Regions from separate parts of the Homo sapiens genome. Here region 2 is linked to region 1. The links come from fine-mapping of genetic effects on gene expression. A gene starts in region 1. The other region holds a variant in brackets. All regions are shown on one strand. Distances are between the middles of the regions. Region 1 holds the start of SPATA41 (spermatogenesis associated 41). Region 2 holds the start of CERS3 (ceramide synthase 3).

The links. PIP is the estimated chance that this variant, and not a neighbour inherited with it, causes the effect.
Region 2: its variant is fine-mapped to the expression of SPATA41 in skeletal muscle (GTEx, PIP 0.98).

What each region holds. Positions count from the first base shown.
Region 1 is chr15:100,344,922-100,357,649 of GRCh38, forward strand. SPATA41 (spermatogenesis associated 41) reads right to left here and starts at 5,797. Exons shown (of 2, transcript NR_028139.1): 1 at 3,813-5,797; 2 at 1-706. It overlaps LOC105371021 (a long non-coding RNA gene), which reads left to right and starts at 4,685. Exons shown (of 3, transcript XR_007064777.1): 1 at 4,685-4,761; 2 at 5,454-6,024; 3 at 6,758-7,223. RefSeq lists an enhancer at 4,965-5,224.
Region 2 is chr15:100,520,514-100,533,241 of GRCh38, forward strand. CERS3 (ceramide synthase 3) reads right to left here and starts at 8,437. Exons shown (of 12, transcript NM_001378789.1): 1 at 8,300-8,437; 2 at 1,154-1,243. The variant C/T (reference allele first, on the strand shown) is at 5,843.

The DNA of each region.
Region 1 (12,728 bases):
TCCTTACCTCTGCCTCCTGCCATCTAATCTCCTGCCAGGGCCTCTTTTTGGCAGAAGCTAGCAAGAAGCCTAAGAAAATGTAAGGGAGTCAGAGAATGAAGGTTGCAGACTTTCAGCTTCAGTAAAGAGCAGAACATGGAAGTGGGTATGTGGGGCTGGGAGACAGAGCCGCTGAAGGTCTTAATCTGACCACCATGAGTCTGAATTCCCTTTGCCCTTCATCCTTGTATTCACCAGTCATATTAAAAGTTTAAGCTTCCATGCCTTCCACTTTCTCTTTCACAGCATTTCCTCCACAATACTGTGAACTGCCTTCCCCTACCCAAATCCAAGATCCTCCTCAGTCTTGAAACCTTCCCACTGTGCCCTTAAGAGCTGCTGCTCCATATCCTAGATCTGCTGCCTCTTCTCTGAGCGTTCTGTACTTACGAATGGAACTCCTTTGAAAATGTAAGGTGGCAACAAAATTCACATTTCTCAGCATCTTTTTTCCCCTAAGGATGGTCACTTGTCACAGTTCTGGCCACTGTGATAGAAGGAGAAGCTACTGGCTAGAGTTCTAGCAGAGTTCATTTGAGGAGCTTCCTTCTGCCGCTGTATACCCCTTTTCACTGTGTCTCTTCCTCTTTGCTCCTGACTAGAATTTGCATGTGATTCCTGGAATTCCAGCAGCCATCTCGTAAGCATGAGGAAGAGTGCCAGACCCCTGGGAAGCAAAAAGATCAATGAACTCTGGGTTGCTGATGACATCTTGGAGTCACCATGCCAGACCTGAGCTGTCTACTTCTGCACTTTTTGCTATATCAGAAAAAAAATATACTCTTGTCTCTTTTAAGCTGTTGCTATTTGGGTTGTCTGTTATATGCAGCCAAACTCGACCCCTAACAGACACACATATAGACAACTCCCATCCCCCACCCTGGGCTCTGGGCTCCTCAATTTCCTCCTTCAGTGACCTTCTGTGCTATGCTGCCCCAACTGTCCACTCTCAAATTCACACCCTACACCTTGTCATCACCCCTAGCTGTTCCACCTTCCAAAACTTGAACATCCACCTCTGACCACAGCTTCTTGTCCTCCCAGCATGCTCGTCCAAATGCTCCTACCTCAGAAGGTCTCTCAGTCTGCATCTCCCAACCCACCAGCCTCTCTTCACTTGCCTCCATATCCAGCTTGCATTCCAGGCCCCATGACTCTGAAAACACTCTTGCCAATATGCTCAGCACCCTCCCCTATCCCTTTTCACTGCAGTTGTCATGCAGAACTACAGGCCTGGGTAAACTCAACTCTCTACTCTCACTGAGCATGTGGTTGAGCTCTGAACACCACTGGAGCCAAGCATGCAACAGGGAAATCTGCAATCACCTTCTTCATTTGAGCCATCGCCATGCCCACCATTGCTACTACACTCCTCTGCCCAACTCCCCTTTCTCTCAATGCAGTGCTGATCTCGAACCCTCCCCTTCTCAGCTTCGCATTCCTCATCTTATCCCTTTCTTTTGGCAGTGGACAAGCACGCACTTCACAGAGTCATCCCCTGGTCCAGACTCTTTGCCGCGGTTTGAATGTTTATGTCCCTCCAAAATTCATGGTGAAACTTACCTCATTGTGCTGGTATTAAGAGGTGGAGCCTTTTGGGTTAAGGCCCAAAGTCATGAGGGCTCTGCCCTCATGAATGGAATTAATGCCCTCATTAAAGAGGCTCAAGAGGGCTTCTTGGCCCTTTTGCCCTGCATCTCTTCTGCCATATGAGGACACAGCATTTGTCCTCTTCAGAAGATGCAGCAACAAGGTGTCATCCTGGACACAGAGAGCTTACCAGACACTGAATCTGCCGGCACCTTGACCTTGGACTTCCCAGCCACCAGAACAATGAGAAATAAATGTCTATTATTTATAAATTACCAAGTCTAAGCTATTTTGTCATAGCAGCAGGAATGGACTAAGGCACTCCTCCTCCCAGCTCCAGACCATGTATCCAGCTGTTCAGTTGACCACTTCAAAGAGCGAGACCATGGCATGTGATCCAGTTTCAAGGATGGATGAGAATGTTTCAAATCTGCTTTTGTTTTTGTTTGACTTTGAATTAAGAAATCATCCAGTGGATGATGGAAGGATCATGGGACACTGATATCATTTGGGTACACATTGTACTTGTTTGGTTAACCCTATTTGGATAAACTGTTGTGGTCTGGATTTAGTTGCTTGCAGCCAAGGTCATCTATGATCTAATGTCTTCAGACCATTCACCAGAGTACTATTTCTCCTGCCCAAGCTCCTGATGAGGACTGGCCAGCTGAAAGCCAGGGTTAAATCCAACTCCATGCATGACCCAAGGAACAGCTACTCCCTGATGCTGAACAAGGCCAAAGCCATATACTGTGAACAAGCACAAAACAGAGCCAGGCTGGCATGTGCTTCCGCAAATTGTGAAGCCCAAACAGCTGCCTCTGCTGCAGTTGATGGTGACTTATTAGCAAAGAAAACATTTTCTTTTTGGAAAAGAGTTTTAGATTGGCTTCAATGCTTGGACAAAAAGAGGTCAGCCCTACAAGGCCCATGACACTGAGCATAGCTACAATGTATTGAAAACAGGCATCGCTGATGCCCACACAGCCCTAAAAATTGCATCTCAGTGCCCATACAATGTATAAGTTTAGGCAATTCAACTTCATGGTGAACTTTTCAAGGTTAATTGGTTGAGAAATATCAAAAAAGCATTTGTAAAAGTAATACTTTGATTTTTCAAAGAGTTGATCTTGAACCAATCTTTCAACCAGTGGTTGAATAGTGAGACCAGTACCTGCAGATGACACACCTGCTATCTAATGATGGAACCACACCATCCCCAGAAAAGAGGCCCATTATCCTGTGTTCTGGAGCAGATCCTACACATCCAAAATGGTCCTGAATAAAATGTGCGTTATACATTAGGCTGTGAGGTGGGGGATGGGGAGAGTCCAGGACACATCCCCACATCATTCTCATCACAATTATGATCTGATTTACAGAAAACAGTATCTTTGAAGTGGCATTAAAGTGAAACTTCTGGATGAGCAAAACTGGCCAGAGGTCTACATTTAACTAAGTAGCTTAATTTACAAAAATGTCTGTCCTCAGTCTAGACCAAGGAAAAAGCAATGGTAACTGCATTCATTTATGTACTCATTAGGTCCTTCAACCCTTCTTCAGTGCCTACTTTCTGTGTGCCACGTACTGAGATGCCAAATGAAGAGGCAGCAGCATATAAATTGCACTTCTTTCCCCACAGTTCTCTATAGAGCTCTGTTATGAACTAGACACTGTTCCTGGTGCTGGGGATTTAGAAACGAAAAAGTAACTTCCCTGTGTTCTATCTAGTGGGGGAAGGCAGATAGAAAGAAATAATTTTGTGGGAATGTAAAATGGTACAGTCACTGTGGAAAACAGTACGACTATTCCTCCAAAATAGATTTACCCTATGATCCAGCAATTCCGTTTCTGGATGTGTACCCCAAAGCTTTGAAAGCGGGGACTCCAACAGGTATTTGCATACTCATATTCATAGTATGCAAATTTAACTAAGTAGATGTTGTCATGGCATTTGTAAGCTGCCATGGCACTAGCGGGAGTGTCTTTTGCCATGCTAATACATTATAATTAGTGTATAATGAGCAGTGAGGACGAGCAGAGGTTGCTTTTGTCACCATCTGGTTTTGGTAGGTTTTGGCCAGCTTCTTTACCGCATCTTGTTTTATCAGCAGGGTCTTTGTGACCTGTATCTGGCAAAACCTCCCCTGAGATGCAATTCATTGGTTCCTGGGGTAACCAACCTGCCTCCCTGGCAGCCACTGACTCATCCTGTGACGAAGAATGCCTAACCTCCTGGGAATGCAGCCCAGCAGGTCTCAGCCTCATTTTGCGCAGCACCTGTTCAAGATGGAGTCGCTCTGGTTCGAACACCTCTGACAGCTGCCCGACAATGTGAATGTACTTAATGCCACTGAACTTACAAATGATTGAAATGGTAATTTTACGTTATAGTACATTTTACTACAGTAAAAAATGTTTTAAAAAAGAAATCATTACTCTCTTGCTAAGATCTTGTTTCATCTTAACACACACGAGATGCCTTGTCTTCATTTCGTGGACAGGCAAGGCCGAATTCCGTTTCACAGATAGAGGACTGAGATCTGGAGGCAGAGGGCAGGAATTAAAAACAAGACAAACAAGAGCCTTATACAGGCAGTGTCTTTCTGAGTCTGATCCCTGTTGTCTTGAGAGCTGCGGTGAGGGAAAGTCGTCTTCAGAGCCCTCAGGGTCAAAGCAGTTTGTTACCCTTGAGATAGACAAAGCTCCTAACCTCTCCAGCTTTTTGCCGACAGCTCGATTCTGATGGGCACTGACCTTTTCCGACCCTGTTTTCAGGAGCCGACTCCTGGCAGGTTGGTTGTAGGGGCCCTCTTGAGTGCTTCACACACAGCAGTCCTGTTGGGGTGAAGGTCACCGTCACTGTGATAATTGTTGTCGTCGTTGAAACCACCCAGCCCGAAAGCAGCATGGGCTGTGCCCAGAGCCGCCGTGCCAGAAGCCCACGCTTAGAAATAGAGGGCCGAAGACCAAAGAGGACTGCGGGTTCTTGGGCCAAACGTGACCCTCTCAAATCCCCCAACTCGGGGATTTCGTTAGCTGGGGACTGGTGTGCCCGGGTTCCAAGACCCCTGCGTAGACTCTGTCTATAGGTGGAAGAAGGCCTTTGCCCCGAGGCATCCAGAGGTAACGGTGAGAGGAACAAGGGCACGTGGGGGATCCCACCACAGCCTCCCCTGAGACCCTCTTCACGCTGGTTGCAGGAGTAGCCAACCCCGCTCCCTGGCAGCCCGTGAGATGCCACATCCCCTCCAGCAGGGGGCGGCCGGCATCGGTCCCGTCTTCCTAAACCGGCGTTGGTGGGAAATGCCGGCACCAGCTCCCTCCCCGCTCCAGAGCCCTGTTTTCCCCATTTGTATTTCACTACTTTCCTGTTGAGCTTGGATTCCAGCCTCAAATTCCGCGATTTGGCCGGCATCCTAATCCCCGAGTGACTCTTGCCAACCACTCTCTGTGGGGCCTGTGTGCTTCCTCCTGGGTTCTGGGGCGCTGGCGGCGTCCGCTTCACCGGGAACGGGAGCCCCAGCCTCCCGAGGCCTTCCTGCCTGGCTCTGGGAATGGCCACTGTCCAGAAAGCCCCGCGGCCGTCCATGCTCGCTCGCTCAGTCAGGCCCTTGTGGGGATATTGCAGAACGAGTCCGAGTTACTATCCCTTTAAATACAGGCGTTTCGGCCTAGCTGCCGCCGGTCCAATCCGCAGCGCTTCCGTGCCCCACTTTCCCGCGTCAGCCTGGCTCCGGCCTCCACCAGGGGGTGCTAGTGAGATCCCAGCCAGCCTCAGAGCTGAGCGTCCAGGGCCTTCAAATGTCCCCATCCTTGAAAAGGCAACTCCAGTGGCATCTTCTGCGGGGAGACCAGAAGCAGCATCTGACGAGGAGACAGCACTGGCGGTCCCGACACAACTGAATCGGCAGGATGAGGGCCCTTAGTGTTAGGCACCGGCGGAGCTGCATCCCACCCCGTCTCGTCCCCTGAGAACAGCTGTGAGAAGCCGCCTATTTTTCATCGTTCTGCAACACACCTTTCCCTTCCTTGGGATATTTCTCCTCTTTCAGCATTGCCGCATCAGGGTTCCAAAGCCCCGTTTCTCTCCTAGTTCTTTCTTTGCTCAAGAAAAGCAGCTTGTCTGATAAACTAAGCTATGTATGATTCGCTGCCAGTACAGACTGAAAAACAAAATAAACTCCCAATTCACAGTCCTCCGTTGCGTAACAGTGAGCAGACGTTCTGAGAAATGCATCGTCAGGCAATTGCATCATTGTGCAAACAATATAGAGTGTACTTACCCAAACCTAAACAGCACAGCCTACTACACACCCAGGCTGTAGGCTGTGCTTCTAGACTACAAACCTGTACAGTGTGGTACTGAACACTGTAGGCAACTGTAACACAATGGTAAGTATTTGTGTATCTAAACATAGAAAAGATACAGTAAAAATATGGTATGAAAGATTGAAACTGGTGCACCTGCCTAGGGCACCTACCGTAAGCTTGGAGCTTACGGGACTGAAAGTTGCTCTGGGTGAGTCAGTAAGTGAGTGGTGAGTAAATACGAAGGCCTAGGACATTACTGTACACTACTGTAGACTTTAAAACCCTGTACACTAGGCCCACACTCAATTTATTTTTAAAAATTTTCTTTCCTTCAATAATATATTCACTTTAGCTTACTGTAACTTTTCTACCTTAAGAATTTTTAAATTTTTTGACTCTTTTAATAACAGCTTGAATACACAAACACATTGTACAGCTATACAAAAATATTTTCATTCTTCATATCCTTATTCTATAAGCTTTTTTCCTACTTTTGAAGTTGTTTATTTTTTACATTTTAAACTTTTTGTCAAATATTAAGACACAAACACACATTAGCCTAGGCCTATACAGGGTCAGGATCATCAATACCACTGTCTTCTGCTTTCACATCTTGTCCCACTGGAAGGTCTTCAATGGTAATAACACACATTCTTAGTAAATGCAAATAGTCATGGCTCAGACTGATATAGTAATGATAGACTATTCAATATGTGGTATTGGACAGCTGTTTATATATTTGTACGAACCTAAGTTAGATTCTGTGGTGGTTCAAAAATATATCCTCTAATTATGACCTGCTTCCCTTCAACAGGTGTACCTAATTCCTCTGCCTAGAAAGTGTGCTGGAATTACTGCCTGGCTTCTGATGAATAGGGCGTATTGAGAGTGATGCTTTGTGAGTTCTGAGGCTAGGTCATAGAAAGGATTGAACTTATTCCTGAATGTTGCTCTTGGATCACTTGCTTTTTTGGGAACCACCAGCCATGTCATGAGGACACTCAAGCAACCCTGCAGAGAAGCACATGTGTGGAGAGGCACTTCTTGGAAAGGAGGCCAACTTGCCAGAACCAACTAATTTGTCATGTGAGTGAGTCATTTTGGAAGCAGATCCTCTACCCTCAGTCAGGCCTTCCGATGATTTCAGCCCCCAGCCTTTGAGTCTGCCCCAAACACCATGAGTAGAGACAAGCCCTTCCCACTGTGTCCACCCTGGCTGAATTCCAGACCGTTAAAAAAACAAGAGAAAATAAATTATTATTAGTGTTTTGAGTCACTAAGTTTTGGACTAATTTGTTATGCAGCAATAGCTAACAACTACAGAGTCATAACACAAACTAAAATTAATTCTAAGGCATGTTAAAGATTTATATGAAAGCATTCATCTAATGGAGGTGTGCAAGAAGTGGCTATAAAAAATTTAGGGCACCCAAAAGCAACCTGTAGGCTGAGCAGGGTAAGTACATCTGCAAGAGCAGCCAGATGGCTAGTTGGTCCCTGTGTGCAGCCTCTCTACCCACCCATGGTATAGGTCCAGGAATGGAACTGTTTAGCTTCCCTAGGAAACAATGAATGTGGTGCTTGCATTGTGTTGCTGACACCATCAGAGAGGAAATGGAAGTCCCAGTGTCCAGAAGCTAAACAGAAACACACACACACAAAAGACAGAAGGAAAGAAAAAAAGGGCCAAAATATCCCACAACAAAGGGAAATATAGTCATGATACATGCTTAACTTCAGAAAAGACTTATATAATAATTATATCAAAATCATAATGTAAACACTGTGCAATGATTTTCAACTTTTAGAATCAACCAAAAAGAAATAGCAGAATATATCATCCCGGCTGCAGAATCAATTGTAAAAGTTGTCATCCATAACAATGTCAAAGTAAAAGAGTAGATAACAAAGGAGAAGAGATGGAAGTTAAAAAGAAACAAAGAAACGTATAGGGGGCAAGTTCCCTCATCTTCCAAAGTGAAGAGAAAGATATTGCCTATAGTTGATAAAATAAGAAGTAAAGATATACATGTATACTTTGAATTCACAAAGGTAATTAATAAAAGAAATAAAAGTCTCATATTGGGATGGGAATGTGATAAAAAGTGAGGTAAATCCTTATCCATCATTGTAATACATCACTTGCCATATCTAGTCTTGACATATAAAAAAATTAAGAACAATTTTAATGGTATGAAGAAAATGATCAGAAAAATTAAAACCAGAAATAGTTAAAAGGATTGCTTTCAGCAGTGAGTCTAGGGTAGAAAGATTTGGGCAAGGTGTCATTATTTCACACTTTAGGAACTTCTATATCATTTTCTTTAACTATTGAATGTATTACTTTAAAAAATTAATAAATATTTTTTAAATTCCAGATTCCAGAATGGTTCTTCCTTTAATATACGTATTATCTTTGTTTTTACAACTAGGATGGCATTTGTATAACATAACATACACAAGTAAGTATTTAATTCTTAAAATAATTCTGCCAGGAAAAAATTATTATCCTTCACTAATAAGTGGGAAAAGTGAGCTGAGAAATGCTAATGACTTGCCCAAGATGACTCAATAAGTTATATCTTTGAGAGTTATAAAATCTTAAAATATTGACTATGTCTCACAGATGTCTCATGAAGAATCTCACTTTATAGATAAAAATGTAATGTCAACAAAGATACAAAATTTCCCACTGGGTCACAAGGATTTAATGCGTGAGCATGGTTCCTGTTTCTTTCTCTGTGGGACATGGTGACCACCTATGTATGCATCAGAAAGCTAGAAGCAGGAGGAAGTAGGCAAGAACCAGTGGCCTCACCACAACCCTTTGACATAGGCGTTATTATTAACCACATTCTATACTCAGGGCAATAGCGCCAGAAGTAAGCACTGTGTTCATCAAGGTTGCACAGATGGTCATTTGTGGAAGAGGAATTTGACTCAAACCCTGGGACACCAGAGCCATGCCCTCTATCATTAAGGGGGGACATGGGAAGAAAAAGGGAAATCCAACTCACCTGTGAATGGATCACGTGGTGGTTGTAGTGATTCTCTGACTGCAGAGTCTAGGGCAATGTTTTTCTCTTCTCAGATTCTCAGTTTTCTCATCTGTGAAATGAGGAGTTGTGCTAGATTACCTCCCAGTTATGCTTGAACTTGTAATGCAGCAATTCAAACAATTCTTGGAAACAGAGACAAGGGCCTAGGAGAGTGCTGGCACATTATACACACTTGGTTATGTTTACTGAATAAATGACTAAGTAAAGAAAACAATTTGATAAGATTAGAAATTTCTGAAGACTCCATGAACTGTCACGTGGCCAGAGAAAAGAAAGCATCAAACCCATCTCTCTCTGGATTCACTGACTGTCATTCTTCTCTGAAGTAACTTCGATTCACCAGGTTTATGCAGGTTTGATTAAAAACAATAATAACAGCAACAGAAGTCCAGATGTAAAGGTGTGCCCTGCTATCGAGAGAGGGAAGGGGTGTGGAAGGCTCTGTTCTTTAAATAACCCTGGGGTCCTGGGGTCTCTTTGCAACAGCCCCTGTCTGGGCACCACATCTCAGGAGTGTGTATTTTCGCACCCAACCCCTAAGCCACTTGACACATAGCAAGTACTTGGTAAGAAATACTTTCCACATCACCAGCAGTTTATGGGTTTCTCCCCTTTCTTACATATGTCGCCTAGAACTTTCTTCCAAAATCAATTAAGCTTTGAAATATAAAGCTGGGCAGAGAAACTATGATCAGATCTCAATAACTAGATTGTATTTGTCCAAAATCCTTGGTTGCTAGTATCGGAAATACACAGAGCTCGAGTGATCACAAAGAAAGTGTTTGTCTGATATTCTAAAATCAATCATTGGAATTCTCAATATTAACAGACTATAAAGGAAAAATCATATGGTCATGTCAGAAGACATGAAAAAGCCTTTGATAACATCCAACATCCGTTCCTGATTAAAAAAAAAAAAAGCTCTCAGCCAACTAACAGCAGAAGAGACCTTCCTCAACCTGATAAAGGACATCTATGAAAAAACCTACAGATAACATCATACTTAATGGTGAAAGACTGAAACGCTTTTCCCCTAAAGTCAGGAACAAGACAAGGGTGTTGGCTCTCACCATCTCTTTTCAACGCTGTACAGGAAATTCTAGCTGATGTAGTCAGGCAAGAAAAATAAGTGAAAGGAATCCAGATTGGAAAGGAAGAAGTAAAATTGCCTTTATTCACAGACATCGGGATCATCTTCACAGAAAATCCACACAAAAATTTACTAAGACTAATAGTAAGTTCAGCAAGACTGTAGGATATAAGATCAATATACAAATTTCAATTGTATTTCTATATACTAGCAATGAATAAACATTAGAATTTAAAAACAATATTATTAACAATGACATAAAATAGCATAAAAACAGTAGCATAAAATACTTAGGGATAAGTCTGACAAAGGATGTGAAAGACCTGTATATTGAAAACTATAAAATATTGCAGAGAAACATTAAAGAAAGAAAGAAAATTAGGAATACTTAACCATGTAACCCTGGGGCAAGTTTTCCTCCTCCCTATTCAACCTGTAGCTGATGCACTCCTGAAAACACCACCTCCTGGCTGGAGGCCAACCACACAAAACCAGCGCATTAAACAAAAACACAACCAAGGATCTTCAGAGTCCACTGCACTCCCCTGCTCCCTCCACCGGAGCAGGTGCTGGTATCCACAGCTGAAAGACCTGAAGACAGATCACATCATAGGACTCTTTGCAGACACTCCCTAGTACCAGCCCAGAGACTGGTAGCTCCACTGAGTGGCTAGACTCAGAAGGGCAAAAGCAATCACTGCAGTTCAGCTCTCAGGAAGCCCTATTCCTAGGGGAAGAGGGAGAAAACCACATAAAGGGAGCACCTAGTGGGACAAAAGAATCTGAACAGCAGCCCTGGAGTCCCAGATCTTCCCTCTGACATAGTCTACCCAAATGAGAAGAAACCAGAAAAACAATTCTGGTAATATGACAAAACAAGGTTCTTTCGCAGCCCCAAAGATCACACTAGCTCACCAGCAATGGATCCACACCAAGATGAAACTTCTAAATTCCCAGAAAAAGAATTCAGAAGAATTATTAAGCTAATCAAGGACGCACCAGAGAAAGGTAAAGTCCAATGTAAAGAAACCAAAACATGATACTGGATATGAAAGGAAAAATCTTCAGTGAAAGAAATAGCATAAACAAAAAACAATCACAACTTCTGGAAATCAAGGACACACTTAGAGAAATGCAAAATGCACTGGAAAGTCTCAGCAATAGAACCGAACAAGCAGAAGAAAGAACTTCAGAGCTTGAAGACAAGACTTTCTAATTAACCCAATCCATCAAAGACAAAGATAAAAGAATTTTAACAAATGAACAAAGCCAGCCGGGCATGGTGGCTCATGCCTGTAATCCTAACACTTTGGGAGGCGGAGGTGGGCAGATCACCTGAGGTCAGGAGTTCGAGACCAGCCTGGCCAACATGGTGAAACTCCATCTCTACTAAAAATACAAAAATTTGCTGGGCGAGGTGGCGCGTGCCTGTATCCCAGCTACTCGGGAGGCTGAGACAGAAGAACCACTTGAACCCAGGAGGCAGAGGCTGCAGTGAGCCGAGATCGTGCCATTGCACTCCAACCTGGACTAAAGATCAAGACTCCATCTCGAAAAAAAAAAAAAATGAACAAAGCCTCCACAAAGTTTAGGACTATGTTAAACATCCAAACCTGAGAATAATTGGTGTTCCCCAGGAAGAAGAGAAATCTAAAAGTTTGGAAAACATATTTGAGGGAATACTTGAGGAAAACTTCCCTGGCCTTGCTAAAGATCTAGACATTCAAAATCAAGAAGCTCAAAGAACATCTGGGAAATTCATCGCAAAAAGATCATCGCCTAGGCACATATGCATCCGGTTATCTAAAGTCAAGATGAAGGAACAAATCTTAAGAGCTGTGAGGCGAAAGTATCAGGTAACTATAAAGGAAAACAGAGTAACAGCAAACTTCTCAGCAGAAACCCTACAAGTGAGAAGGGATTGGTGTCCTATTTTTAGCCTCCTTAAACAAAACAATTATCAATCAAGAATTTTGTATCCAGTGAAACTAAGCTTCATAAATGAAAGAAAGATGCAGTATTTTCCAGACAAACAAATGCTGAGAGAACTCACCACTACCAAGCCAGCACTTCAAGAACTGCTAAAAGGAGCTCTAAATCTTGAAACAAATCCTCAAAATACACCAAAATAGACCCTCCTTAAAGCATATGTCTCACAAGACCTATCAAACAATAACACAATGAAAAAAAAAAAACAAGGTATTCAGGCAATAAGTAGCACAATGAATAGAATAGTGTGTCACATCTCAAAACTAATGTTGAATGTAAATGGCTTAAATGCTCCACTTAAAATATACAGAATGGCAGAATGGATAAGAATTCACCAACCAAGTTTCTGCTATCCTCAGGAGACTCACCTAACACATAAGGACTCACATAAACTTAAGGTAAAAGGGTGGAAAAAGATAGTCCATGCAAAGGACACCAAAAGTGAGCAGAAGTAGCTATTCTTATATCAGACAAAACAAACTTTAAAGCAAAAGCAGTTAAGTCTTGGAACCAACCCAAATGCCCATCAATGATAGACTGGATAAAGAAAATGTGGCACACATGCACCATGGGATACTATGCAGCCATTTTAAAAAAGGATGAGTTCATGTTGTTTGCAGGGACATGGATGAAACTGGAAACCGTCA
Region 2 (12,728 bases), 180 kb after region 1:
AGCGAGCACTTTCTTTGTGAGCAGGAAGTATTTCTTCACTCTGTGGCTTATAATGCTTCCTCCTTCTCTTCCTCCCAGTAGGCTACCTCTTCACCACTGTCACCTTCACTAAAAAGCAGGCTGGGAAAATACATGTGTGATAAACTGCCTTTGCTGTTTAGCAAAACTTTTGGTAAGGTGTAGAAAATGACAGGCCCAAGGCAGAGTGTTGCCTTGGATGGGAGCCCCTTCTGCCTGAGCCCTCCACTGTCCCACTAGGAGTGGGCAGGGTGGGGAGGAGGGGAAGCTCTGTGTCAGCAAGCACAGCTGGTGCCGGGAGAGCATAGACCTGGGATCAGGCATCCAGCAGCATGAATATCCGGTTCTTGCAGGTCAAAACCGGGAATAATAATACCAGCTTTTCACAGACCGTTACAAAAAGTAAATAAGATGATTAAAATTATAACGAACAACTGTACATACCACAGCTTACAATGTTGCACCCACACTCATTGAATCCTTACAACAATAATAATTATGCATGCTTCCAATTTGCAGGTGAACAATGAAGTTTAGAGAGATAAAGTGACTGCTCAAGGTGATACAGAGCCAGACTCAAATTTAGGCATTAACGGTAAAAGTGCAACTCCTCCCCTCTACGTTACCTGACTTTGCCTTTCATCAAGTCAATATTTGCGAACATGCTTCATGAATGACTCTTCCTCGTACAAATGATGATTTTTTATCATTTGGGGTCATATTTTATGATTTTGAAGGAATGTGGTTTTGAAAGTTTCTCCTTACAGGTAAGACGCTGGAAGCTAGAGACCTGCCCAGCACAGCCAGCTCTTCCTTCCTTCCCATCAGAACAGCAGGTGTTATGGGGGTGGAAGACCAGAGCACAGACAGCAAATGCCACCCCCTGATGGCTCTTTGCTACCTGCTGCTGTCACATGAAGCTTTCTCCTGCATCTCCGCTTTCAAAAGGAAAGAATACAAATCTATAGTATTTCATAAAGAATAGCATGGTACTGGCTTTGCCCAAACTCCACTTGTCCCCAGAATATGCAAAACAATGCCAGATATCAACTTCTGAGTCACAGATGTTAATTTCCCAAGATTATAGTTAAGAAAACACAGTAGAGGTAAAATAAAATAAAATAAAGATAATTACCTGAGTATATATGATAGCTTTCTACTGAGGAACTCAAATACTGTATATATGTATATATATATAAATGTCAGCTTTTGTTTCACAACATCCCTAAAGAAGCAGAAAAAGAGAAACATAATTAATATATTACACAACTGTGCCCATAAGCGTCCTTCTATAATAGGTCTAAAACTTAAGTCAGAGTTTCAAACCAACGGGAGAGCTTGGTGCTGGCAAATTTGGGTCTACCAATCAGTTTGGACTGGTGCATGGGGCTTTAAAACAATTTGAGCCAACACTGAAAATTCAAGAATTTGCACATAGAAATCCAGATTTGCAGCTTCACTCAGAAACTCAGAAGACTGGCAAGAATCACTGGAGCCCTTAAATGGAACACACGCTTACCAACCTGGCCAACTGTTTTCAGGCACCTGACCGGCTTTCTAGGTCAGTTAACTTTGTGACTCCTTATGTTGCTAACATTTCTCAATATGAATTATGTCGTCAAGTCAGTGTAACTTGAACAGAGATAATAAGGGCCTAGCACAGCCTGGTGTAACAATTACAGTTTGTCATAGCACATGGGTTTTCAAAGGACCAGTTGTAAACCATTAGTGCACTGGTTCCCAACCCTGGTTCTACATGTGAATTCCTTGGGAGAGATTTTTTGACCATGCTTTCTACCTAACCAGATCAACTAAACCAAGATCTCTGAAGGTGCAGTCCTGGTATCAGTATTGTCACTGCTGTATTGTTACTGTAATATAATTATTGAAGTATAACATACAGATGGTAAAGAAACAAAGCACAAAAGAATATGACCAGCACCCCAGACTCTTCCTCATGCCTCTCCCTGTCACCACCATGGATCCGTGTTGCCTGTTCTTGAACTTTATGTAAATACGATTGTTTTGAGCACATTCCTGGCATCTGGATTCTTTCACTCAACTTTTAGAACTGAGATGCATCTATGTTGTTGCATGTAACAGTAGCAAACTCATTTTCGTTGACTTTTAATATTCCATCCCATGACTATATCACTATATCACGATCTGTGTTCCCATTCTGTTGTCGATGGAAATATGGGTTGTTTTGAGTTTGGGATTACAACACTTCAAGGTGCCATTTATGAACATTCTTGAACATTCTTGAACATGCTTTAGGTAAATACGTGAATGCATTTCTGTAGAACATATACCTGGGAGTGGAAACGCCAGGTCATAAGGCATATGTATATTCAGTTTAACAGATATTGCTGAACAGTTTTTCAAAGCTGTTGTGACTATTTACACTCCTCCCAGTGACGTATGAGAGTTCCAGTGGTTTAATATCCTTGCCAAAATTTCTATTGTCTGTCTTTTAAATTTTCACCTTTCTGGTGGGTGTGTAGTGGTACTTCATTGCAGTTTTAATCTGCATTCCCCAGAAAGCTAACAAGGTTGAGTATGTTTCAAGTCTCTTGGCTGTCTGAATATGTTTTTCTGTGAAGTACCTGTTCAAACCTCTTGCCCATTTTTCTGTTGTGGCGGTCTATCTTTCAAAATTGCCTTGTTTCTGTTTTGGATAGGACTCCTTGTTTGTTACATGCATAACAAGTCATGTTATATGCATGACTCCTTACATGTTATTTGCATGGCAAATGTCTCCTCTCCTGCAGTTTGTCTTTTACTCTTTTAGTGGTATGCTTTGAGAAACAGAAGTCCTTATTTTTAACATAACCAATTTACAGATCTTTTTCATCATGTTAGTACTTATTGTATCTTGTTTAAGAAATCGCCAAGTGTAGTGGCTCACACCTGTAATCCCAGCACTTTGGGAGGCTGAGGCAAGCAGATCACAAGGTCAGGAGATTGCGACCATCCTGGCTAACACGGTGAAACCCTGTCTCTACTAAAAATACAAAAAATTAGCCAGGCATGGTGGTGGGCGCCTGTAGTCCCAGCTCCTTGGGAGGCTGAGGCAGGAGAATGGCAGGAACCTAGGAGGCGGAGCTTGCAGTGAGCGGAGATTGCACCACTGCACTCCAGCATGGGCAACAGAGCAAGACTCCATCTCAAAAAAAAAAAAAAAAAAAAGAAATCACTGTCTACCCAAGGTCATACATATATTCTGTTTTGTCATCTAGAACAATGCTGTTCAGTAGGAAGAAAACTGGGAGTAACATATGTAATTTTAAATTTTCTAGTATTTCAGGTACTCAATAGCCACATGTGGCTAGCAGCTGCCATATTGGACAGTGAAGATCTAGAAGTTATATTGTTTTACCTGTCACATCTAGATTAATACTTAGAGCTGTATGAATTTTAAGATGAGAATCAAGACTCATTTATTTGTACATGGACATTCAAATGTCTGTCCTTTCCTGTAGTACCAATGTTGTCATAAATCAAAGGTCCAAATTTGTGGAGGTTTTTTTTCTAGCATCTTAGTCCATTCCATTGGTCTATTGTTCCCTAGTTGATTTTAATTTTCAGACAGTATTGAGAACCACTACCAGTAGGTCACAAAATTAATTAGTCGGTTATGACCAGAAATGTTGTAGAGTGTAATGAAATGAAATAGAAAACAATACCTATAAGTATTGTTTTATGAAACTATTATTTCAGAATTGTGTGTGTATATATGTCCTAAGTTGAGATCTGAAAAGTATTTCTTACTAACAGTAATGGTTAAAAACGTTTGAAAATCACTGCAATAGTGTAATCTACACAACAACCACTTAGGAAAATTCAAGTTGCATACGATTTTATAGTCATCATCTAGAAAAGCTCTGAAGTTTTACTCTTACACAATTAGTTATAGTCCAGAATTCCACATAAGGCGGATCTCTGTTGGAATCAAGCCAGGTAAAGCAAGTTACAGCTAATGGGATAGGAATAGCTCATTATGAAACCCTGTAACTTTGACCCAAAGTGGAATATAGTAATGATCCTCTGATGTGAACATTACAAATGAAAATTGCTAATCTGCAGAATTTGACATTTGTTCAGCATCAGCATGTTGTATGTTTTTAAAGTTTTTAATCATATGTCAAACAAGAAAACAAACTTTGAGGGGAAGAAATTGAAGCCAAGTTAGTTATTAAATGATGTCAAGTAATCTTCATTATTGAAGAAAATGTTTTCAGAATTTTTTGCTTAAATTTTGAAATGATTAGTTTATTGTTCAGCCTGTGTCAGGGTCAATCTAATCAACAAGTATTTATTGACTATCCAGTAAAATATGTCTGGCAAAGAAATCAAAATAAAACAAATAGACCTTATCCCAGCAGAGAATTAAATGGATTATCACATATGATTTTTCTTCACTAAGTACTTCATCTTAGAACCTGAATATAGTAAGTAAAAGTGGTTTCAAGCTCCTTAATGTAATATTTTACCTCTCCAAATAACCTAAATATATGCCTTACCTGTGAATTTTACACTTTTTCCATTAATGAGAAATGTATGCATCTTTTGGTTGTGTTTTCATATTATGCACATACACACATGTGTATGAATGTGAGTGTGTGTTTACCAATCCTGAGCAGACAGATTTGGGAATTTTGGTTAAATATCTTAGTTTCCTGGTATTTCCTAAATATTTAACTCAGAAAACAATAAAGAGGAAACTTTCCATTAGATTGAAACATATAATCCACCACCAGCACAAATCATCTCCACAGATTTTCCAGTGGGCAGGTAGGCCAAAAAAATAAATAACCAGAACCCTTTAATTTTATATTTAAGTAGCAGGAAGATACTCACAGATGAAGAAATTTTAAATTCTCATATTTGGGAAAGGTAAAATTTGTTTCATGGACATCCAAGCCAAATCTCCTTCTTATCAGAGCTATTTTCTATTTATTAATGGAAATTCTCAGCCTTGAAATTATGATAATAACAACCTTTGGAAGTGATCTAACTGAAGCCCATTTACAATTGAACATCTGTCCACCATCAACAGAAAGCCCTGTGGAGAATTGTGGCTGTTACAGTTTTGTTACAAGGTCAAAGATTCTTAATCTCTCCGTTCACTTGCCAATTGGGGTTTTTATACATAAGCCCTAATTTATTTATTTTAATTAGACTTTTAGCTTCATTTATGTTTTCATCATTGTAAATTCCAGCTACAAGGACAAATCTTAAGGCAGCACATACAGCATGGCTGTAAAATGATGGGCTTGATTGTTGCACAGGACTTAGGAAAGTAAGTCCCACTACTTTAGAATGCCTTCTTTCATACTGCCAACTGTCTGGTCTGTCTAGTGTTGGCACAAGGATTTTTTCAATCATCCTGGGTCCATCCAGTAAATAAAACCATAAACTCGGGCTGTATAAGATCAATTAGATCGTTGTATTGTGTGTTGAGGTGTTTCCAGGAGAAAGAAGAATCTACCTGCATCTGATTCCAGAGAGAGCTTCTCTGTGTTCCCCTCTGCTATCTCTCTGCTATGATCTGCAGTTTCTCTGGATTCAAACATAGAGATAGATTGCCAAAACACCATTCTTGATGCCAGCTGGCCTACTTGATGAACTTGACTGCAGGCTTTTTGCCAAAACATAAGTCAATCGTTTTTGTCCCAAATCCATCCTTATAAAGGTGTACACCTGCAGGTCAATCTTTGCATCGCATCCCATAAATTCGTGTTGGGGAGGGCTTGGAAAGTCCAAGCTTCTTGTGTGGATGGCTTGGGGCCCAAGATAAATGAACAGTTGCCACGATACACTC[C/T]GTGCTCTGTGAGCGGAGGGAGCTCCCTTGGAGCCAGCCCAGCACCCTCCTCCCATGAGCACTCTGCCAGCTCCTGGCAGTGCTTCTGCTGTGGTGTGGAGGCCAGGGAAAACCTACATAAACTGTGTGTGTGTGTGTGTGTGTGTGTGTGTGTGTGTAAAAACAACTTTCCTGGCCTACCACAACAAACTGACTTTTGAAAAAGAAGTATCTGATGTTCTTGCTTTTTGCTTGATTTTACTATGCTTTGGGGGACTTTTGGCATAGGACATTCATTACTTTAAGAGGCTGTTTGAAAGCTGGATCAGCTCCACAAAGAAAGATAATCACAAAGTGATTTCCCAAGAAAGTACACTAGGATATAAGGAACAAGTACCAGTGGAAAGGCAACTCCCTGAGGGCAGGGACTTGTCTGCTTTGTTCACTGGTGATACCCCCAATCCTAGAACAGGATCCAACATGTCAAGAGCATGAAGAAATCACTGCAAAATGGGGAAATGAATACTGTTTACCAAGGGCCTACCCTCTGTCAGGTCCTATGGAAGGCATTTGACATACCCTGCCTTTTTATGTCTTATAATAAACAACCTCGTTTGATGGATGTTATAATAATTATTTTATAAATAAGGAAACTGAGATTTGAAGAATTGCACTGAGGCCAGGTGTGGTGGGTTATGCCTGGAATCCTAGTACATTGGGAGGCTGAGGTGGGCAGATCACTTGAGGCCAGGAGATCGAGACTAGACTGACCAACATGGCGAAACCCCCATCTCTACTAAAACTACAAAAAAATTAGCTAGGTGTGGTGTCACATGCCTATACTCCCAGCTACTTGGGAGGCTGAGGCACGAGAATCGCTTGAACCCAGGAGGCAGAGGTTTCAGAGAGCCAAGATCATGCCACTGCACTGCAGCCTCAGTGACAGAGCAAGACTCCATCTCAAAAAAATAAAAAAGGAATTTCAGTGACTTGCCAGGGTCATAGTTAGTAAGCAGGATGCAGGAATTTGAATTTTGATCTGTCTTTCTAGTCAATGTTCTGTCCACCACACCAAGCCTTCCTCCAACAGCAGAAGCAGGTGATAGATTGATTGATTGATTTTGGCCTTTTGTTATAAGACACCAAATTCGAGTATTTGAATATTATCATAGCTTCAGGAATCCCTCCACACAAGGACCCTGTAGGGGGTTAATGGAATAGAATGGGAATATAGAATGAGCTGAAATCATATATCTTAGTGTGCAGAAATGCAATAAAGCTGTGGCTTTCTCACATCCCTACTGTACCACTGTAAATCTCACTAAGCCTCAATTCCTCGTCTGAAAGTGGCGTATCATGAGCCCTAAAGGGGAAAATGCACGTACACACAGCAAGGACTTAGTAAATGTAGATTATTATTAGCCCAGAATGATCTTCAAACTTATGTAAATCAATTTGATTGATATTTTAGAAAAAGGCAGAAATATTGTGAATGAGAGGGCCACATAATTATTACCTTTTTGAACATATACATATTTTCTCTTTAAAGAACTTTTTATCCAGAAATTCTACTGAAGAAATTATAAATGGAAACCCCTTTTAAGAAAAACAAAAGGCTTGTAGGGGGGAAGGCAATGAAAATGTGAAGTTTAAAGTCAAACACTCACTTAAGGTAGAGAAGGCACTTGAACATTGTGGGTTAATGAATAAATTAAAATTCATTATCTGGTCAGCCCTAAAGCTTTATTTCCCTTGTTTTGTGTAAAGGTTTCAAAAAAATAAAAATGCTTAACAGAACATTCTTGCTAAACATTTGCTTGGATCAGAAAAAGTAGTTTGATTTTGTTTCACTTTTCTGCATGAGACTGGCAGCCTTAGAACCGAACAGCTAATTTCTCCTGGCATGACATTGAGCACTACATCTCTCAAGACAGAAGCAGCTTAGGAAGGCCTGCCACTGTGGGGTGAGCAAGTCCCACCTTGTTCTCAGCTTAAGGCACTCTGGGATGGTCTGAAATGGCCTTTGCCACCTGGCAAAGATCTGTGCTGACCCCTTTCATTCCACCTGGATTCAGGGCTTTCCTGATAAACCAAGCTATGCTGAGCATTCAGCCGTGTGTGATTTCACTGCCCAGACCTTTCTTCCTAACCCTCAATGAATCAGTTTAAACTCGCCCGAGAGCAATGCAGGTCAGGAGTGGAAGTTTGGACTCGAAATTTACCCTCTACTACTAAACACTTCCAAGCAAAACTCTACAAAGCAAAGGGCCCCAAGTCTGTCTTTTCTGTATTTCTCCCAAACATCAGACCAAAAATGAACATTTCTTCATTTGTCCGCCTCTCCCCCAATCTCCATCTCCTCTCCCTCTCTGTTACGCACCCAGGCACACATACACACACAAGCTCACACGCGGAATCACGGCCACCTTGGTTTTGAAAGTCCTCAAATACTAACCACATCCATGGGATGGCGCCTACCTTTCTGAAATGTCAGTCCACAAAAGGTGCCCCTTGCTTGTGAAGTGTAGTCAGAGAGCAGCTTCCAACGTTCCAACCAGCTTCGTTCTCCTCAGAGAGCAGCACAACTCATCTCTGTGTAAGACCTGAAATTCCTTCAGAGACCCACCCTCCAAAGTTGCGAGTCAAGATTTCTGACTGAGGGCAGTCAGTGACGTGAGGCGAAGCTACTGGATGGCACCCTCAGGTTCTTCCTGATGGGATGTTGCTTCCTGTTTCACCACCTTGAGAAAAGAAAGCTGGAATTCAGTGAGACATTGAGTTACAAATGCATCAGTTGCCTCATCGTTGTTGCCTTTTGGTGCACACAGTCATCTGTCAACTGCTGAACAGGATGATCTTGCTGTTTGTATTAAAAGGAAAGGGCTTATGCGCAGAGAGAACCCCAAAACACCAGTCACAACCCTGTACTGTCCTAGGAGCTGGTTCGACAAGTATAGTACTCTCCAGAAAACAGGCAGGGCTTCTTACTAACTAAATCACCACCATGCCACAAAACTCATCCACTAAGGAGCATTGGTCCACAGGAATGTGATTTCTCTGCCCGCTTCCTAGGAATTGAGAAAACGATCAGTTTTTTGAAGCATATAACTGCCAAAAAATACAATAGTCTGGCAATCTTTTCTTCTTAGAACAGTCAGATATAATTCGCATTTTTATTTGTTTGTCTCTAAGAACAATCATCATAGACAAAGACAGACAAGCTCATTAGTATCAGGAAATAAACATTGTTGCTTGTCTCTGTGTGCTTGAACCACTACAATTTCAAAGGCAAGTGTGGATGCATTTTATAGTGTTTATTTGAGATATTGTACCTTTGAAGCCATTTTCACTTTCTCTTGCCTGAAGATGAAACAACTCTGGGCTTGGATTATTTAAAGGTGCTCTGACAAGTAGAGAGCTTCAACAAGTTGATTCCTGTATCTCTCACAAACCAAACATCAGCAGTACCGCCCACACTGAGAGCCTGATTCTCATTAGCTGTCTTCAACTGCTGAAAGACATTTTTCTTTTTTCATCAGCTAATAGATGACCGCAAATTAAAAATGGACTAGATGCAGATAAAGGGAAACACCAGTTTCAAATTCATTAAAGCTCCAAAGTTTCTCAGATTTCACTAATGAATTTAGTTCAAAGAGAGAGGATTGATAAACGCCCTTCCTTTCACTGGGTACTTCTCACTCAGGGCTTCCCGGTCTGCCTTTCTCTTCGAAGACGTTCTGTTTTTCAGTAATGGGCTCATGCATTTTTAAAACCATCTGGCAGAAGGGATGAATTTAAAGCAGACTTGGCCACTAACCGAGGTAGGCTCAGTTCAGGTCTGCCTCACCTTCTGCCAGGAGACCACTGCAGAATTGGTTTCCTGACATGAGGCTTCCATCTTCATCCAATTGTCACCTAACTCACATTCCCATTCTCATTTCTTTTTCTTCTGCTGATTAAACTCTACCAGCCACCTTCTACCTATAGGATCAAGACCAGACTCCTTGGCACAATGGCCTGCTCGCAACCTGCTGCTCCAGGACTTCCTTTTGCCCTTTCCCACTAGATTCCAGACACAACAGTGGGCAGCTTCTGGGCCCTTGCCATGAGCTGCTCTCTCGCCTCTGTGCCTAATGAAAGTCTGAATCCTGCTCAAGCTTCCCTAGCCTCGGCCCTCTCTGTTCTGTGGGTATACCTTTATTGCAACACCTACTACTCTATCACAACTTAACTGATTTTTGTATCTGCTTCCCCACTACTTTGGGAATCCTCACTGGACAAGCCTTAGATCTCTTTCTACCCCTGGAGCTCAGCTGTTCAATACTGGTCAAACAATTAGTACCCAAAATAGTGATCATCCAACACTCATTTTCACTCCGGGGATATCTCGGGAAAAGAATGTCCTGAACCCTATTTTGGACTCTCTTACTCAGAATTAAACAAGCCAAAAGAATATTGGGGAACCAGGCTGGGAACAGTGGCTCACACCTGTAATCCCAGCACTTTGGGAGGCCGAGGTGGGAGGATCCCTTGAGGTCAGGAGTTTGAGACCAGCCTGGCCAACATGGTGAAACCCTATCTCTATTAAAAATACAAAAAATGAGCTGGGCATGGTGGTGGGCGCCTGTAATCCCAGCTACTCGGGAGGCTGCGGCAGGAGAATTCCTTGAACCCAGGAGACAGAGGTTACAATGAGCCAAGATCACTCCACTGCACTCCAGCCTGGGTGACAGAGTGAGACTCCTGTCTCAAAAAAACAAAAAACAAAAAACAAAAAAACCAATATTGTAGAACCACATGTTTTCATGCTTTGTTTTAGTTACTTCTACAATGAAACACATGTTATTTGCTGATAAAATATAATGTTCAAATCAAATCGGAACTATTTAGACATAGTTCTATAACTCCTGTTAATCAAAAGAACCCCGTCAGCATCTGCTGTCTTTTTTGAGTCACTGTCAAGGTGTAATTCTTCCCCCTTCTTCAGGGGCAAGATGTAAAAATGAGGCTATTGCACAACTTGTGCTAGAGGAATGAGAGTGAGGAACTCGGAGGGTTTGCTGGTGAAGACTTTGTGGGAGCTGTGGGAGTGAGGAACTCGGAGGGTTTGCTGGTGAAGACTTTGTGGGAGCTGTGGACCTATGTGTAAGTCTAGTCATCTCCACAGCTCCTCTGAGGAAAATAACCCAGGGCAGGAAATAGGCTGTGTGTGGAGTTGAAAACAAAGCAAATATGGTTATCTCAAGGATTCCTAAGGTGATTCCTTTTTTCTTCTCTTTCTTACTTGTGCCTCACCATAAATGTATCAGTGCATTGCTAAGAGAAAAGATAGAACCCCAGGAAGCATTAAAGGAAAGAGCAAGATGCATGCACGTGGGTATCATTTCTCCTAGGTAGTACTTAGCTGTTTCCTTTTATGAGAAAACGGAAGCAGTGAGTTGAGACATTAAATCAGTTTTATATTGCGAATCCTCATTAATAGATATTAAATCACTTATTAGCATGTTAATGATTCATTGCATTTTAAAAAGTGAACGTCGGACCTCTGACAAATGAAATGTAGACAATTAAGCATGACAGTGGAGAGGTGTTGTCGGGAGCAGTAGGGGTGCATTACAAAGCGGGTACCGGGTGCCTTTCACCTAGTAAATTGGGAAGGAGAGGGATAGGAGAAGTGTAGACCAGAGACAAACCCAGTCAAGGTTCTGGAGAGCCACTTAGGAACTAGAAGAGGAAAACACAGTAAGCCGGATGCAGGAAAATTGAGTCTGGGCGCCAGCAGCAAGACACAGTGCCAAAAGCTCTCCTAGCCAAGGGCAGAGGTCCCACAGTTGCATGGGTGTAGATGGGGAAGAAGGGGAAGCGGGCAACTTCTAAGCTGCATTTTATGCTTTCAGCCGATCCTTAACCTAATTTCGTAGAGAAGAAAACGTAAGAATCAACAGGCTTTTCCCTCAAAGGAAGGAATCCCTTCCAAGAAACTTAACATATACAGTTTTTGCCCTATTGTTCTTAACCTAACCGGCAAAATTTTTGAGATTTTACTATCAACAAACTGTTTTCTTCTCATGTTTTATCTTATCATTTTCATAGACGTTTCAAATGCTATTTGTCCACAGACAGAAATTTAAGTCAAAATGCTACCAAACTGCCAGGTGCGATGGCTCATGCCTGTAATCCCAGCACTTTGGGAGGCCAACACAGGAGGATTGCTTGCGTCCAAGAGTTCAAGACCAGACTGGGCAAGATGGCAAAATCCTGTCTCTACAAGAAAAAAAAAAAATAGCTGGGTATGGTAGCTGTGATCCCAGCTACTTGGAAGGCTGAGGTGGGAGGATCACCTGAGCCTGGGAAGTCAAGGTTGCAGTGAGCTGTAATCGGCCCAATACACTCCAGACTGGGCGACAGAGTAAGACCAAACTGCATTCTTTAAAGAAGTGTGTGGAAAAGCTCCTGTTGGATAAAATGAAACAAGCAAATGTCTTCACAAGTGGTTCCCCACTACACTGGGAATTCTCAAGGGACATGACTTAGCCATCTTCATATCCCTGGATCAATACCTACCCCGCTCAAATGTGAAGCCTATGTCTTATTGTCATAAAGTCATCTCTCCTCCCTGCCACAATGATGCCTCTAGATCCCCACATGGATTATAGGATGAGAGGACCTGAACTTCATCTTCCCTTCCCCGCTCCACTCCGCTTCCACACTCATCCTGGCCCAGGGTTGAAAGTCTCTTTGCCGGATAACCTGAGAGGCCACTTGGTGAGAAAGTGAGAAAACTGAGGAGAAGACCCTCTGCTGTCAAATTAGTCGGGAGGACAACTGCTTTCCTGCATCCAGACTCACCTGGGGGCCTCCCTCCCTACAAACTCCAGCCCCTCTCCTGCTTCATTTTCCTCCACGT